Linked DNA regions of Homo sapiens: region 2 is linked to region 1. Evidence: fine-mapped expression QTL. Tissue or cell type: breast. Region 1 holds a variant in brackets; the other region holds the start of a gene. All regions are shown on one strand. Distances are between the middles of the regions.

Region 1 (8,108 bases):
GGTGTAGTTCCAGTACCAAGTCAGGGAAAAGAGCTGATGTCGCCTTTTGAAGGCCATCAGGCAGGAAGAGTAGTTTCCTCCTAATTTTTTATTTATTTATTTATTTATTTATTTATTTATTATTATTTTTTTGAGACGGAGTCTGGCTTTGTCGCTGAGGCTGGAGTGCAGTGGAGCAATCTTGGCTCACTGCAAGCTCTGCCTCCCAGGTTCACCCCATTCTCCTGCCTCAGCCTCCCGAGTAGCTGGGACTACAGGCGCCCACCACCACGCCCGGCTAATTTTTTGTATTTTTAGTAGAGACGGGGTTTCACTGTGTTAGCCAGGATGGTCTCGATCTCCTGACCTTGTGATCCACCCACCTTGGCCTCCCAAAGTGCTGGGATTATAGGCATGAGCCACCACGCCCAGCCTAGTTTCCTCTTAATTGAGAAGGGGTCTGATTGTCATTCTCTTCAGGCCCTCAACTGATTGGATGAGGCCCACTCGCATTGGGGAGGGCGATCTTCTTTGCTCAGTCTACCCATTTATACGTGACTGTCATTCAAAAACACCCTCAGAGAAAGGCATAGAATAAAGTCTGACCAAATACCTGGTTATTTCATGGCCCAGTCAAGTTGAAATAAAATTAACCATTGCAGCAAGCCGTGAAGCTGGTTATTTGTCCTTGTTCCTGTTGGAGCTGTGACTCCCATAGGACTTGTGCACTGAATGGAAGGAAGGTAAAGGGGAGATCAGAGATAGGAGAAGCTGTGTTGAGTGTCTAGTACTGTAACTTGTACTAAGCTGAATGCAACAAACGATGCTTTTGTCTTTCAGTGTATAGAGACATCCTGGCTTGTGGCAGAGGGGATTCGTTTTTTATAAGAAGCCACTTTGAATGTGAGAAGGAAACTCCACAGAGCCTGGCCTTCACCAGAGGGGAGGTCTTCCGAGTGGTAGACACACTGTATGACGGCAAGCTGGGCAACTGGCTGGCTGTGAGGATTGGGAACGAGTTGGAGAAAGGCTTAATCCCCAACAAGAGCAGGTAACAGAGATCGCATTCTCACATACCCCTTTTAATCCTTCCCCCTGCAGAAAACTAGAGACCGCCCCCCTTCCCCCGTAAAAGGAAACCCCACATGATGAGTTCATTACTTGTCACCATCTATTTCTTGTTTATGGAGAGTGGCCTGAACTGTAAATAGCCACCAGCCAGTTTATTGTGAGTAAATTTAGCATCATGTGGTTGGTTGCTGAATGTGGCTGTTTGAACAACTTCCTAAGGAGCATCCACTGCCTTGTACCGTATACAAGAGATATACTGAATGGCCGTAGCACACCAGCACACCTCTTAGAGACAAGGTACCCTTGTCCGGTGCCCAGTCTCCATCCTTGGAGAGGTTTATGCACCCCAGTGAACACTTGGTGTTTGGCTGACAGTGCAGGAACCTAGAAAAGAGGCCTGTATTTGAGCAGGAGTTCCAGGTGTGTGTACTGTGTACCTGCATATCAGAATGGGCCAAATTTCACATGTTTATTGCTGAGCCACTTCTGGGAGATTTCACAGAGACCCAGCCTTTTTCTGCTCCCATTTGGAAGTGAAGGTCCCCACATTTCCCACCCTCTGAAACTTCTTCATTGTCAAGCGGAATCTTCTCTGAGCTCAGAAGTAAAATTGACTGGATTTGATTAATGAAATGCATGTTAGCTGCGTTTTCTGGCTTTAGAGATTTACTTCCCGTGGTTTCTTCTCAGAGCTGAACAAATGGCCAGTGTTCAAAATGCCCAGAGAGACAACGCTGGGGACCGGGCAGATTTCTGGAGAATGCGTGGCCAGAGGTCTGGGGTGAAGAAGAACCTGAGGAAAAGTCGGGAAGACCTCACAGCTGTTGTGTCTGTCAGCACCAAGTTCCCAGCTTATGAGAGGGTTTTGCTGCGAGAAGGTGAGGAAGTCACATGGGGCCTGGAAATGAACTGACTGGGCTCTGAGCCTGTTCACCTTTATTTTCAGACTGTATGGTCAAGTTCTAACTTATGTATGTCAGTTATGCCAAAGGCAGTTTATAGAGTTGAAATCAAATTCTAACAAGGAGCATGATTTATAAAAAGCTGTTTCAGTTCCTAAATTGAGGCTTATTTCTGCAACTTAAAAAATGTTTTAATACCACTGTTCAAGAGTTTCGGTATATTGGCTGGGCACTGTACCTTATGCCTATAATCGTAGCACTTTGGGAGGCCAAGGTGGGAGGATCACTTGAGCTCAGAAGTTCAAGACTAGCCTGGGCAATATAGTAAGACCTCATCTCTGCAAAAAATAAAAAAAGTTTCCATATATTATCAATGGGAAAGTTTGTGTTTAAAAATGGTGAGGAGCTAGGCAGTGTAGTCCCAGCTACTCAGGAGGCTTGAGCCTAGGAGTTTGAGTTTAGTCTGGGCAACATAGTGAGATCTTGTCTCTTAAAAAAAAATCTAGGTTAGCATGTGGTTGAATGAAAAGAAAAAAATTGTTTTAAATGGTGAGGATAGTGAAGGCATATTCTTCAGAACAGAGCCAAGCTGAATTGGGGAGAAACCACAGTTTCTTTCGTTTAGTTATGTTATCAAAAGCCCATACAATACTTTTACTGCTTATCATAACAGCTAGGCAAGTGTGTATGCTTTAATGGCCTTTCTTGTCATTTCAGCTGGTTTCAAGAGACCTGTGGTCTTATTCGGCCCCATAGCTGATATAGCAATGGAAAAATTGGCTAATGAGTTACCTGACTGGTTTCAAACTGCTAGTAAGTCTGTCAGTGTTTTTTTTTCCCCCAAATTTTTATTTTGAAAAATTTCTAACAGAGGAGTTGGAAGAATCATGAACACCCACGTACCCTTCACCTGGAATCACCAGTTGCTGACATTTTGTCACGCATTTTCTCTCACCCACTGCCTGCACCATAGACACACATACACACACACATACACATACTCTTTGAAAAATTTCTGCAGAATCATTTATAACACTTTATCCCTGAATACTTGTGTGAATCTCCTAAGAACAAGGACTTTCTCCCACATAACTGCAATACCATTATCACAGCCAAGAAAGGTAACATTGATGTGGTGTGATTTTGTATATAGTCCATTTTCCACGTTTTCTTAATTGTCCTAGTTATGTGCTTCATAGCTTTTTTTTAAATTCAGAATACAACCAAGGACCATTCATGACATTTGATTTTTATGTCTTTTTGTGATTTTTATGTCTTTCCAGTCCCCTCTTTTTTCTAAATAACTTTGTTACACTGATATTTTGAAGAATCCAAGCTAGTTGTCTCCTAGAATGCTTCCTGTTGGACTGGCCTAACCGTTTCTTCATGATTAGATTTCCACTAAGCAGGTTATGTGGGTCCTTCCCACTGAATCTTGTTAGGAGACACTTAATGTCAGGTGTGCCATCATTGCTTGATGCTAGGTGGGAGTATTTGGTTGTCACTGTTTTCTAAACAATTATTTAGCTTCCTGTTTTTGCTTTTGCAGAAACGGAACCAAAAGATGCAGGATCTGAGAAATCCACTGGAGTGGTCCGGTTAAATACCGTGAGGCAAATTATTGAACAGGTGAGAAAATTCATCCACAGACCGTGTTTTCAGAAAGAATTAGATTATGGTTTGCTGCAGTCACTTTTAGGATAGTATCTGTACTTTTAATCATTAAATGTTAATAATAAAAAATTGGCCGGGCACAGTGGCTTACACCTGTAATCCCAACACTTTGAGAGGCTGAGGCGGGTGGATCACCTGAGGTCAGGAGTTCGAGACCAGCCTGGCCAACATGGTGAAACCCTGTCTCTACTAAAAATATAAAAAATTAGCCGGGCACAGTGGCAGGTACCTGTAGTCCCAGCCACTCAGGAGGCTGAGGCAGGAGAATCGCTTGAACTCAGGAGGCGGAGTTTGCAGTGAGCGGAGATTGCACCATTGCACTCCAGCCTGGGCGACGAGTGAAACTCCATCTCAAAAAAATATATATATAATGTAAATGCAAACCGTTTCACTGTGTGGAAACCAGTCACTGTTGGCAGTGAGCGGAGATTGCACCATTGCACTCCAGCCTGGGCGACAAGAGTGAAACTCCATCTCAAAAAAATATATATATAATGTAAATGCAAACCATTTCACTGTGTGGAAACCAGTCACTGTTACTGTTCTCTGGCAGTAACATACTGTTTTTTTTTCCAGAGTTCCCAGCATTATACCAAATAATGTGTTAATTCATTTTATCAGAAGTTCTAACACATTGGTAATATTGAAGTGGGCATTAGGTAGAAGGAAATGTGTTCTGCTTCTTGATTTAAATTTACAAGATAGGTGGCTCATGCCTGTAATCCCAGCACTTTGGGAGGCAGAGGCGGGCGGATCACCTGAAGTCAGGAGTTTGGGACCAGCCTGGCCAACATGGTGAAACCCTGTCTCTACTAAAAATACAAAAATTAGCTGGCCATGGTGGTGGCGGGCACCTGTAATCCCAGCTACTCAGGAGGCTGAGACAGGATAATTGCTTGAACCCGGGAGGCGGAGGTCGCAGTGAGCCAAGTTTGTGCCACTGCACTCCAGCCTGGGCAACAGAGCAAGAATCTATCCCAAATAAGTAAACAAACAAACAAACAAGATATATCTCATACAGCCTTTACTTATTAAAACAAAGTATTTGATGCTATATTACTTTATATATCCATTTCTCTAACTTTTCCCCTTTTGTAAACAGGATAAGCATGCACTACTGGATGTGACTCCGAAAGCTGTGGACCTGTTGAATTACACCCAGTGGTTCCCAATTGTGATTTTTTTCAACCCAGACTCCAGACAAGGTGTCAAAACCATGAGACAAAGGTTAAATCCAACGTCCAACAAAAGTTCTCGAAAGTTATTTGATCAAGCCAACAAGCTTAAAAAAACGTGTGCACACCTTTTTACAGGTAAGTGAAATGTAAATGTAGTCCCTTTGCTAAAAAATGAGAAATAAAGAATTGAAGA[G/A]TAGAAGAAATAATTAATTAATCTGAATGGAGAATTTGAAATTGTGTTCATGACTCCTTGAAAAATAGTTAATCCTATAAAATGGGATATTAGGCCAATGGCATTTATATATTGAACTTTGTAATTTTGTCTATTTGAAAATGACCATAAAGATCCATGATGTGGTAATAATTAGCTATTTTGATGAAGTTCATATTTTCCTGTGAGACTATAAGGCTAGTGATTGAGCCAGGCCAAACACCTATGTCTCTCTAGAGATTGTGTCATTGTTCTCTACTCACCATCAATACATGCATTAACTTACAAAGCGAAAGGAACTTGGTTTCATTATTTAAAAATATTCCTGTCCAGCATGGTGGATAACACTTGTAATCCTCCCACTTTGGGAGGCCAAGGCAGGAGGATCACTTGAGCCCAGGGGTTGGAGACCAGCCTGAGCAACATGGTGAGATCCTGTCTCTACTAAAAGGCCTAGCATGGTGGTGCATGCCTATGGCTGAGGTTGGAGGATCGCTTGAGCCAGGAATTCAAAGCTGCAGTGAGCTGTGATGGCACTGCTGCACTCCTGCCTGGTGACTGAGTGAGACCCTGTCTCTTCAAAGAAAAAAAAAAAAATCTAGAAACTTGGACACTCTGAATATTGGATGATTTAAAGATTTATTATTTCTCTTTGTTAGGTGTGATAATAATATTGTGATTTTTTTAAAAACAAAGTTCTTTGAGGAATGCATACTAAATAAAATATTTATGGTTGACCTAATATAATGTTGAGAATTTGCCTAAATAGTCTGCAGTGAGGGGAGTAGATGGGATTATAGACAGGACAAGACTGGCCAAGACTTGGTAGTTGTTAGTTGTTGAACTGGTTGATATGTACATCGGAGTTCATTAAACTGCTATCTGTACTTTTGTACATATTTAAAGATTTACCTAATAGAATATATTTTTAAGTCCATGAAATGAAGAGCCATTGCTATTACTCATGAAAGTAAAATGGTCTAAGAACATGACATATTTTAGTAACAATATATGCACTGTCTATATAAATGATTAATTCTGTGCATATGAGATTATTAAGAGTTTTAAAGGGTTACATAAATTTTGTGGTCATGCAGGGCATTATTTTGTTGGGGCAACACGAGGAGACTGCAAGGATATGATATCCTTAGGATGAGGATAGCTCATTGAGTTCATTGCCCATCATCATCCACCCATGTCATTTTAGTGTATCTCTGATACTGGAGAGGAAGGGGTGAATGATTGTGTTCACATTAGATGCTTGTTTTAGTGTAACTTGGTTTTTCTTGTTAAAGAGAGGTGCACTACTTGCCACTGTGGCCAAATGGAGAGAGTTTAACCAAATGCAGAGGAGGAAGTGGTCCATCATAAACTAGATTTCTGTGAATGTAGTCTTACGTACTCATACTCTTGGTATATTTATGAATATCCTTTCTGTCCTTTTTACTACTAGTATTATAATTATTATGATTATTACTATTATAGCAACAGTAAAGAGTGGTACAGCCTTCCATGTGTGCTGTCTTATTAGGCCATAAGAAAGGCCAGCACTTTTGCATAATCACAATTCTGATGTATGACTGAGCCCAGACTAAACTATAGCGTCCCTAACTGTCCAATATTGTACATATGTTACAGCACAGACATATTCTAATCCCAAAAGGGGTCACGTAATGCAGCCCTTCCTTTTGACAGATTAAAAAACTGAAGCCAAAGTGATTATAAATGAAGTTAAAACTATCCCCACTTTATTTTCCCCCCTGCTTTTGTCTGAGTACACTAAATAGCGAGCGTCTTCCCTCAGAGAGTTAAATTTGGGATTCACGTGAGGATGTAGGAAATCGGGAAGGGAATTACAGTGCATTGTAGAGGAAGAACTAGGCTGAAGGCGGCTGGACGAGGAGAGCAGGGCAGAAGAAGGCAGCCAGTGACTGTGGGGCTCTCCCTTGATCTAACCTGAGTCCGCATCATTTGCTCTTGGGAGCACAGGCCACGGTAGCTGGCTGAGTGTGAGTAAGAATCTAGAGGGGTCCATGTGTGTAGAAGGGGTTAGCAACACCTCTGTTAGCTCCATAGATGGATTTCAAGATCCTTGAAGGCAGAGCCTGAACATTTCCCAGCGTTGTGTGCCTGAGGCCAGCATCAGGACTAGCACATGGGCAAGGCATAAATGTTTGTAACTTACATTAGAACTGCCCCTGGCACACCAAGCCATTTCTTGCCTAAACTCATCAGGAAGTTGAAAGTTTTAGAATAACTCAAGTCAGAGATTGGAATGGAAGCACACACTGTAAGCATTGAGTTTCATCTAAAACATTGAAGTGATCTTATCTCACCAGAAATTGCCAATCTCTTATGTAGAATTGTACAGTCTTCAGGATAGATGGTGCAGGGTGTGCAGCAACTTTGACCAGCAAGCTCCAATTTTCTAGCAAGTGGTCTTTTACAGTACTCTTCCAGACTTCAAAGTTTGACTCCCTACAGCTGTGTGGATGACTGCACTAATAATTGCTTTTATTCCCCATCTCACCCTCGTCCCTCTTAGCTTGACCAGGTTTTGACTTGAGGCTGTGTGCCATGTCCAGAAACACTAGTCTTTACATTTGAGCAGTAGAATCTTCAGGCAGAATTAGTATTTTATAGTTTTTGTTTGTTTTTGAGACATAGTCTCCCTCTGTCGCCCAAGCTAGAGTGCAGTGGCACGATCTCGGTTCACTGCAACCTCTGCTTCCTGGGCTCAAGGCACCTTCCCTCCTCAGCCTCCCCAGTAGCTGGGACTACAGGCACACACCACCATGCCTGGGTAATTTTTGTATTTTTTCTGGCAACAGGGTTTACCCATGTTGCCCAAGCTGGTCTCAAACCCCTGGGCTCAAGCAATCTGCCCGTGTTGGCCTCCTAAAATGCTGGGATTACAGGCATGAGCCACCGTGCCTGGCCTATTTTGTAGGCTTTTAAAATGATTTTAAGTGTATGGCATTTTTGTGAGTTAGTAGTTGAGAATAATAGAGTGCTTTGATGAACACAGTAATTTGAAGTCAAGCTTTATGTTGCATTAGTCTCTTTAGGCTCAATATCCTTTTGTTTTCCTTT
Region 2 (8,108 bases), 64 kb before region 1:
AGCTCCTCCCAAGATCTGCTCCCACTCCTGTGTTCTGTTTTGATAAAAGCCACCGTCATCTCCTTTAAGTAAGCCAGAAACCTGAGAGTCAGCGTAGGCTCACTTCCCGCTCGCGTCTCCCCATATCTAGTCAGGCAGTCATCCAGCCTGCTGATCTACTTCCTTAGTTTCTCTAGAATCTGGCTCCCTTTTGTCTAACACTGCCTAACTTCATAGCCACGTCATCTCTCACCTGCATTCCCACAAAAATGCATTTTTGGCCGGTCTTGTCATTCTTACTAACATTCTCCTCCCCCACCAACCCCTGTCCCCCACCAACTGTCAAATCCATCTTTATACTTGCCTGGGCAACTTCACCTTCTGGCACCTCAAGAGTAAGCCTGCTGTCTCTTCCTTCCTTACTTCTCTCTGTGTTATTTATTCCCCTTACCTGGAAGGCTTTTTTCCTTCTTTGTGTCTTAAAAACTCATTCCGACCTCTCCTTTAGAATGTATAAGCAACCCCATCTCTGGAAAGCCTTCCCTAAGTCTCTCCTGCTAGACCACTCTGAGCCTGCCAGGAATCTCAGTGCTTACACAGTTTATCATTACTTGTTGATTGTCTACTGCAATAGACTGAGTTTCCTAAGGCAGGATCCTGAGTATTTTATCAAGGGGTTGACAGAGGTGTTCAGTAAGTACCTGTTGAGTAGAAGAATTTTTTTTTTTTTTTTTTTTTTTTTGAGACGGAATCTCGCTCTGTCACCAGGCTGGAGTGCAGTGGTGCAATCTCGTCTCACTGTAACCTCCGCCTCTTGGGTTCAAGCGATTCTCCTGCCTCAGCCTCCTGAACAGCTGGGACTACAGGCGTGCGCCACCACGCCCAGCTAATTTTTGTTATTTTTAGTAGAGACGGGGTCTCACCATGTTGGCCAGGATGGTCTTGATTTCTTGACCTCGCGATCTGTCCGCCTCGACCTCCCAAAGTGCTGGGATTACAGGCATGAGCCACCGCGCCCTGCGGAGTAGAAGTTCTTTGGATAAACACATTCTAGGAGTGGGGTCAAAATGTGCAAACCCACACGTGAAGAAGATGACTAATAAATTGTTTCTCCAAAGAGTTGTATTGATTTACACTGCCACCAGCAAAAAAGCTAATATATCAACTGAACCGTGTTTCTAACAACCATTTACTGAATGCTTATCATCTGTCAGGTGTTGTGCCAGAAGAATGGAGTTTGTCTATAAATATTTCATCATTTCGAGTAGTGCAGTCCAACAGAACTTTCTGCATTGATGGAAATATTCTATATTTGCACTGTCCAATAGGGTAGCTATTAGCCACATGTGGCTTCTGAGCCCTTGAAATGAGACAAGTGTGACTGAAGAACTGAATTTGTCATTTCCTCTAATTTTAGTTAATTTACATGTAAATGTAAACACTTACTGGTGGCAAGTGGTCATCTTATTGAACAGTGCCGCTCTAGAGAGAAAAAAGGAAATCAGTCAGTAGATGTAACTGCCACATTCTGGATTATTTTTTAAATGTTAGTGGCTCTAAGCCCACATCATTAAGGTGTGGCCACCTTTCAAGTGCTATCATTTTTATTAGTCAGCACCACCTAATTTGGGAAATATTTTATTTTTTTTTCCTTTTTTTTGATTAAAACAATTTTTAAAAAATAGAGATGGGGTCTCACTATGTTGCCCAGACTGGTCTCAAACTCGTGGGCTCAAGTGATTCTCCTGCCTTGCCTTCCCAAAGTGCTGGGATTACAGGCATGAGCCACCGTGCCTGGCCAGATTTGGGAAACATTTTATAAATAGGTGCTTAGATCAGGAGAGCAATGCCTTACATCAGGAATACAACCAAAATGTCTAAGTCCGGAGACTCGAGGCAAAGTGGGAAACGTTACTCACAGTGCTTTTTATCCAGAGGCGTGGACTTAGTTACTCCAAAGGAGTCCAGAAGCATAACACTTCTGGAGAGGCATCTACTGGACTTGTTTTTCCACGAAACTTCTAGACTTGTTTTGATCAGGCAGGAAGTGAAGCAACTTTTCAGGGAGAGAGCCCAGCATCTGCATCTCCTCTGGGACAGACCACACCTTTTACCTTCTACTTGTGAGCCTAGGACGAGTTTTGCTTTCCAATTAAGGGAAGAGCAGGGCAGGCAAAACTATTCTCTTACAAGATGGTTTTTTAAGATTTCAAACCCAAGGTTATATTTTTAATCGGTACCTGTTTGGATTCTCCAAATTAATTTATATGCTCTTAAAATAAAGACACTTAACGTCACTGCACAATTCTTTGCACATGGAGGACTTCGAAAGGAATAAGCACACTGAATTGCATTAGATGAATCCTGTCAGATAAGCACTTGTGACCTACTGGCAACCTTTTATAAGCTGATGATGGGAGAGGAGTTTCAATCTCTTTATTGGAGTTGTTGGAAATGTGCCAAAGAGATAACCTGGAATATATTGTCCTGAAAAGTCCTGTTTTAATATTTAATACGAACATCTTATAACCCTCGGAATTCGGGTAGGCAGTTGTTGGGCTGAGAAATGTGGGGTACAAGGCCGTGTATGTGTTGGTTAGCCGGGCAGGCCTCTAGACAGGACCTAAAACTTTGAGGTTTTCCCAGTTCGACTCTTCGTAGGAGAACTGAAGCTGCCTGTGTGAGGCCCTGCGAACCTCGCCAAAAAGTCTTCCTACAGGATGCCCCCGCGACCTCACCGGGGAAACACCGCGGACAGTCGGGCCAGCAGCGCCCGGAGCTCACTCCAGGTCTCCAAACTTGCAGCACTTCCCAGAGCGCGCGCGCTCGGAGCGGGACCTGCTTGCTCCAGTGCACGCCGCGGAGCGAACCATCGGGCTGGCGGGGGTGGAGGGGTGCAGGCGTGGGGGCTGCGGGCCGCTCGGGCCTTGGGCTTCTCCTGCCGCCGCCGCCGCCTCCCGCCCCCGGCCAGGAGTCGCGCGTGACGCGGTTCGCCGCAGGAGCCTCGAAGGCGCGGCGCCGGCGAGCCCTTCCCCGGCAGGCGCGTGGGTGGTAGCGGCCAATTTGACAGTTTCCCGGGCCGGGCGGCCAGCGCGGAGGCGCCACGCTCGGGTCGGGGGCGGGCTGACGCCGCCGCCGCCGCGGGAGGAGGGACAAAGGGGTGGGTCCCCGCGGGTCGGCACCCCGGCGGTTGGGCTGCGGGTCAGAGCACTGTCCGGTGGTGCCCAGGAGGAGTAGGAGCAGGAGCAGAAGCAGAAGCGGGGTCCGGAGCTGCGCGCCTACGCGGGACCTGTGTCCGAAATGCCGGTGCGAGGAGACCGCGGGTTTCCACCCCGGCGGGAGCTGTCAGGTTGGCTCCGCGTAAGTGCCTCCTTGTGCCGCGCGGTTGGGAGGAGGGTCGTGAGCGTGAGCGTGGGAGCGCTGGGGGCTCTGCTCGCGTGCTGCTCTGAAGTTGTTCCCCGATGCGCCGTAGGAAGCTGGGATTCTCCCATCCGGACGTGGGACGCAGGGGAGGGGTAGGTTTCACCGTCCGGGCTGATGACTCGTGGCCTCCGGGGCTCCTGGAACCTTTACTCTGAAGTCACTTGGGCTGGAGATTAAGGCGCGAGTAGGGGACACTGTCTTGAACCCGGTGTCCTGGATTTCTGCTGGCTTGGAGGCATCTCGTGTCTGTTGTGTCGCTTGCATGTCTTTGTGTTTTCCTTCTCTATTTCAAACCACACTCGGTATTGATGCAAAGTTACAGGCTTGTGTACGTGAGAGAAACTGAAAACTCATCACAGAGCAGAATCCCTTTTCCCTTTCAATCAGCTGCGTCTGTAATAGAAGTAAAAGTTGTTTTTTTTTTTTTTTTTTTCCAGTAGGGAATGGGGATGGAGGTTTGGAAGGACCCACAAAAGAGGAGTGTGATGAATGCTTTGTATTCTAGTACTAGCCTACCTGTCACCAGTTCTTTTTATGTCTTCATTTGTCAAGTTTCTGCTTTTACACGGTAGTTTAAGTTATAAATAATCAGGGATTTCTACCACAGGGTTTTAACATTCTTGAAATGTGGACAAACTTGGGAGTGAGTGCTCCCGCGCTTAGTAATGGAATACAGCCTCCCACCTCTATTTCAGCTTCAGTTCTTAGGCTAGGCTGCTTTTCTGGCAGCTGTCTGGCCTGAGTAATGATGGTTGTGGTTTCCCTGAAGTTCCCAGCGGAGAGTCATCCCATGATAGAAACTGCCTTGCGCTTCTCACTCACGCTCTCAGCCCGGGGAATCCCAGCGGGGAGGAGGGAGGGAGGTCGTTTTCTTCAGCTCCCCAGGTGGTCTGTGCTGGGTGTGCTGACGGTCCTTTTGGGAAAACAGGTCCACCTTTGCCAGCGTAATTCAGAAAGAGATGTAATTTTCTGAGAGCACACACCTGGGCAGGAGATCGCTTGAAGTGAGAAATTCGTAGTGGTAAATGTATTTGTAGCAAAGTACCACTGCATATCCTGCTTGAGAGGATGAAATTTGATTATTTAGTAAGTTTTCATGAACAACTCCACTTCAGTGTGGGGATTACGCAGATGAGCAAGAGCGTGGCTCTGTCACACAGTCCCGTTGGGAAAGCCTGCAACTCATTAAGAATCCGATGAGTGCCATTTAGAAATGTGGACAGGGTACTGGAGCTTCCTCATTGTGGGGAGATGGCAGAAGCGGAGGTGCTTTACTAAAGCACCGGTGGCTTTTGAGGTGTTTCTTGTGTTTTTTTCAGAACTACTTCTGCAGTGGGGCCACTTTATTTCTTTTCAGAGCTACTTATGCAGATTGATGAAGGGGAACTTTCCCCTCTGAAATGCTGCTGTAACTTTTTCAGTACCATCCAGATATTATAATACTGAATGAGCCCCTACTCCTGCCAGTCACTGTGGGGGATACAAAGATGAACAAGATTCAATTTCTGCATTTAGGGGTCTAGTGGACCTGAAACTGTTAGACTTTACTCTGCAATCTGTGTCGGGATTCCTGAGACTGAGGGAGGGAATGTATGATGCCGATGCACACTCTGCAATACAGAAATTTAGCAAAGAGTGGGATTGGTCCTATATGCATTCCCTTCAGGGGATTCTTGCTGGGAATAAAGGGCATTTGAACAGTTACCTCACCCGAGCAAGCCACTATAGAAAATGGGGCCAGTAATGCGCCCACCTCACCGGGCTGAGTGAGGTCTGAATGAAATGACAGAGAGTACAAGGCATGTGGTGGATGCTACGTAAATGGTGGTAGCTAGTAATAGGAACAAAACGGGTGCTGAAAACTCTTAAGTGTTGGGTCCTGGGTTGATAAGGGAGGTGAGATCTAAAGATACAAGTAGGAGGTGCCAGGTAGGTGTCCAGGAAAAAACTGAAAGAGTTGTTGTTCACACTCTGTTAAAAGGCCTTGAAGGCCATAACGAAGCTTTGGGTGGGGGGAAGTCAGAAATCCCTCATGTATTAAATGACTTGACTTTCCCTACAAAAGAAGCGAACCAGTTTCCCAGTAAACATCCCACCCCATAACTATTTTTGAGGCATTCATAGGCTTAAGACCAATGAATTTTTACATCACCCCCGGGGGAATTGCATTTGCAATGACTTCTGCCTACATTTAACTTTTGATCTAGTTCTTTGTACACTGACAAAAGTTCACAGCCAACCATTTCTCTTCAGGACAAGTGTGAGAACTTTCTGCATACTGCTGAAGGCAAGGGAGATTTTGAGTTTAGCAAGGTTTTCTCTCCTTAAGAAGGTTATCTTTTTACGAGACACAAGTTATTGAAACTAGGCGGGGCCACTTTAGTCCTGTGTACAATAATATGTGTAGTAATATAAATAGTAATTTAAAAAGTCATGCAGACTTGGTTGGGGAGAGGCATGAAGTTTGGGTGTGGTGGGGGCGGGGTGAAGCGGTAGAAGGGTTCGCAATCACTGCTGAAACTTTCAACATATTCTACCAACAATATGAGCCACCAGGGAATTCCTTGCCTCATCTCTAGAACGAATCCCATTAAGCAGTTGTGGCTACAGATGAATTTATCTAGGTTGAGAGCTGATTCCCAATAACATGCCTCATTGATTTGACTCTAAGCAGTAATCAGGGGCCCAACAGTTGTTGGACCAACCAGCCTTGATTTTCCAGAGAAGGTGATTTGGTATATGGTAGTGTCTGAGGGTGAGATTGCCCCAGATGGGAGTGGAGGGAAGCAGAACAGTTTTCTCTGGTGTTTTACTGAGTTTTTGTCTTGATCCTAAATCCAAGGGTTAGGGTCAGAAACACAGACTCAGAGGTTAGATTTAACACCCATTTAGTGGGTTAAACACATCAATGGTTATGTGAACTTTGTTAAGGTTTAAAAAGCTATTTAGGGCCTGTTTCTCCCTCATAGGAATTTTTGCAATCAGCCTTTTTAGTAGATGCCCATATAGAAAGTGAATTTGGGAGGGTCTAAGGTGGTATTACTATTAAACTTTTTGAAAAGGCTGTGTGATAGCAATGGAAAAAAAAATTCAGGCATGGAAATCCAATATGCAGTATTGCAGTAGCTAGTTTTAATTTTATTTTTGTTTTTTTGGTTTTTTTTTTGGAGATGGAGTCTTGCTCTGTTGCCCAGGCTGAAGTGTGGTGGTGCGGTCTTGGCTCACTGCAACCTCTGCCTCCCGGGTTCAAGCGGTTCTCTTGCTTCAGCCTTCAAAGTAGCTGGGATTACAGAAGTGAGCCACCGTGCCCGGCCACTAGTTTTAATTTTGGATGGTACCTAGGAAAGCAGTTGAGCTAGTATGCTGCATACATTGTAGTGTGAGAGGCAGAGTTCCGAGTTGGAGAGTGTCTGCTTCCACTTTTTCCATTTGATTAGGAAAAGCACTTCTTAGAACTGGGTGACTGACAGCTAGAGCCCCAGAAGACCTGCACAAGCTGGGGCAATGGCTACCCATAACAGTGACGGCTCCATTCTGTTTTTTAAAGGGATTGGTGTCTCTATCATCCAGCTGGCCATTAAACAACCAAAGCTTCATCATCCTAGATAACCTGTGAGCTCTCAGAGGAGACAGAGTAAGGACTATCATACCCCCAAAATACCTAATCATTTAATAAAGCATTTTCTCTACCTTTTATGCTATCCCAAAACAGTGCTTTCCAAAGTCTGGTATACAGACAGACTTACAGGTGGTGCAGAGAGATACATATTCTATTTTTCAATTATGATGCATGAATATTATATGTTAGGAATAAAAACAGAAAACCAGCTACCACATCCATTTATTTCATGGCTAGATTGCTTAGAATGAGGCAAAAATAAATATTAAGTAAAGCAGTGAGTTTGCTTTAAGAAAAATTATCAACTCTGGGAATGAGTAATATGAGGCTAAGGCAAAAATGGTAAAGCTAGCCCTTGACATCTGAGGTGTGCATAATACTGCTTAAAATATGAGTGTGGTGCTTACTTATAGAGAGCCTGGTATACCTTGACCACGCCTTCAAGAAAGTCAAACACAGAATGGCCCAGAATAGCCAGGAAAGTTGAATTTGATGGACTTTCTGTCTTAAGCGTGTGCATCCTGCTCTTATCCACTCAGATCTCTTAGATGTGGTTGCAGACAGTGTATTTGTAGAGCTAGCTGTTTGTTTTAACGTCTGGCCCAATTCTCATTCCTTTCTCTGCTTCCACAAGCCATTCTGCAGTTTTTAAAGGTCTGTTGGTATGATATTTTTGATATGATAGAGTGATAGGGGAGGAAGTATTTTGACACTGATGAAGGACATCACTGTATTATCAAGTGACTCTTGCTCATGATTCATTGCCGAAGAATGTGGACAGCCAAACAGCCTCACCTGTAAATGCATTTAATTTCTCAAAGTCTTTCAGAAGAATGCCAACTGGATGAGTTTTTTTTTCTTATTTTTTTTTTAATATGAAGCTTGTATTGGTCTGTAAAATAGGCTTTAACAAGGATTTTCGTAGGAACAGGAAGCCTTGAGGTAGAAAACAAGTATCCCTGCTTTGACCTAGAGAGATGCATGCTCATGGCAGGCGAATGAATCAAGGAGAAGAGAAAATACTGTTTCAGTAGACTCTCTAGTGATGTGTGTGTTCACACCATTTATGAGAAATCCTAAGCTTTCA

Evidence for each region. PIP is the estimated chance that this variant, and not a neighbour inherited with it, causes the effect.
Region 2: TJP2 starts here. The variant in region 1 is fine-mapped to the expression of TJP2 in breast (GTEx, PIP 0.94).

The regions. Positions count from the first base shown.
Region 1 is chr9:69,235,209-69,243,316 of GRCh38, forward strand. It overlaps TJP2 (tight junction protein 2), which reads left to right. Exons shown (of 23, transcript NM_004817.4): 13 at 820-1,030; 14 at 1,741-1,928; 15 at 2,670-2,765; 16 at 3,502-3,581; 17 at 4,729-4,939. Among named protein-coding and RNA genes, the nearest start is that of TJP2, 65 kb to the left of the region's middle. RefSeq lists enhancers at 6,572-7,072, 7,073-7,573. The variant G/A (reference allele first, on the strand shown) is at 4,998.
Region 2 is chr9:69,171,094-69,179,201 of GRCh38, forward strand. It overlaps TJP2 (tight junction protein 2), which reads left to right and starts at 3,184. Exons shown (of 23, transcript NM_004817.4): 1 at 3,184-3,339. The coding sequence starts at 3,280. LOC124902175 (a long non-coding RNA gene) reads right to left here and starts at 504. Exons shown (of 2, transcript XR_007061566.1): 1 at 1-504. RefSeq lists a silencer at 2,773-3,202 and an enhancer at 4,093-4,282.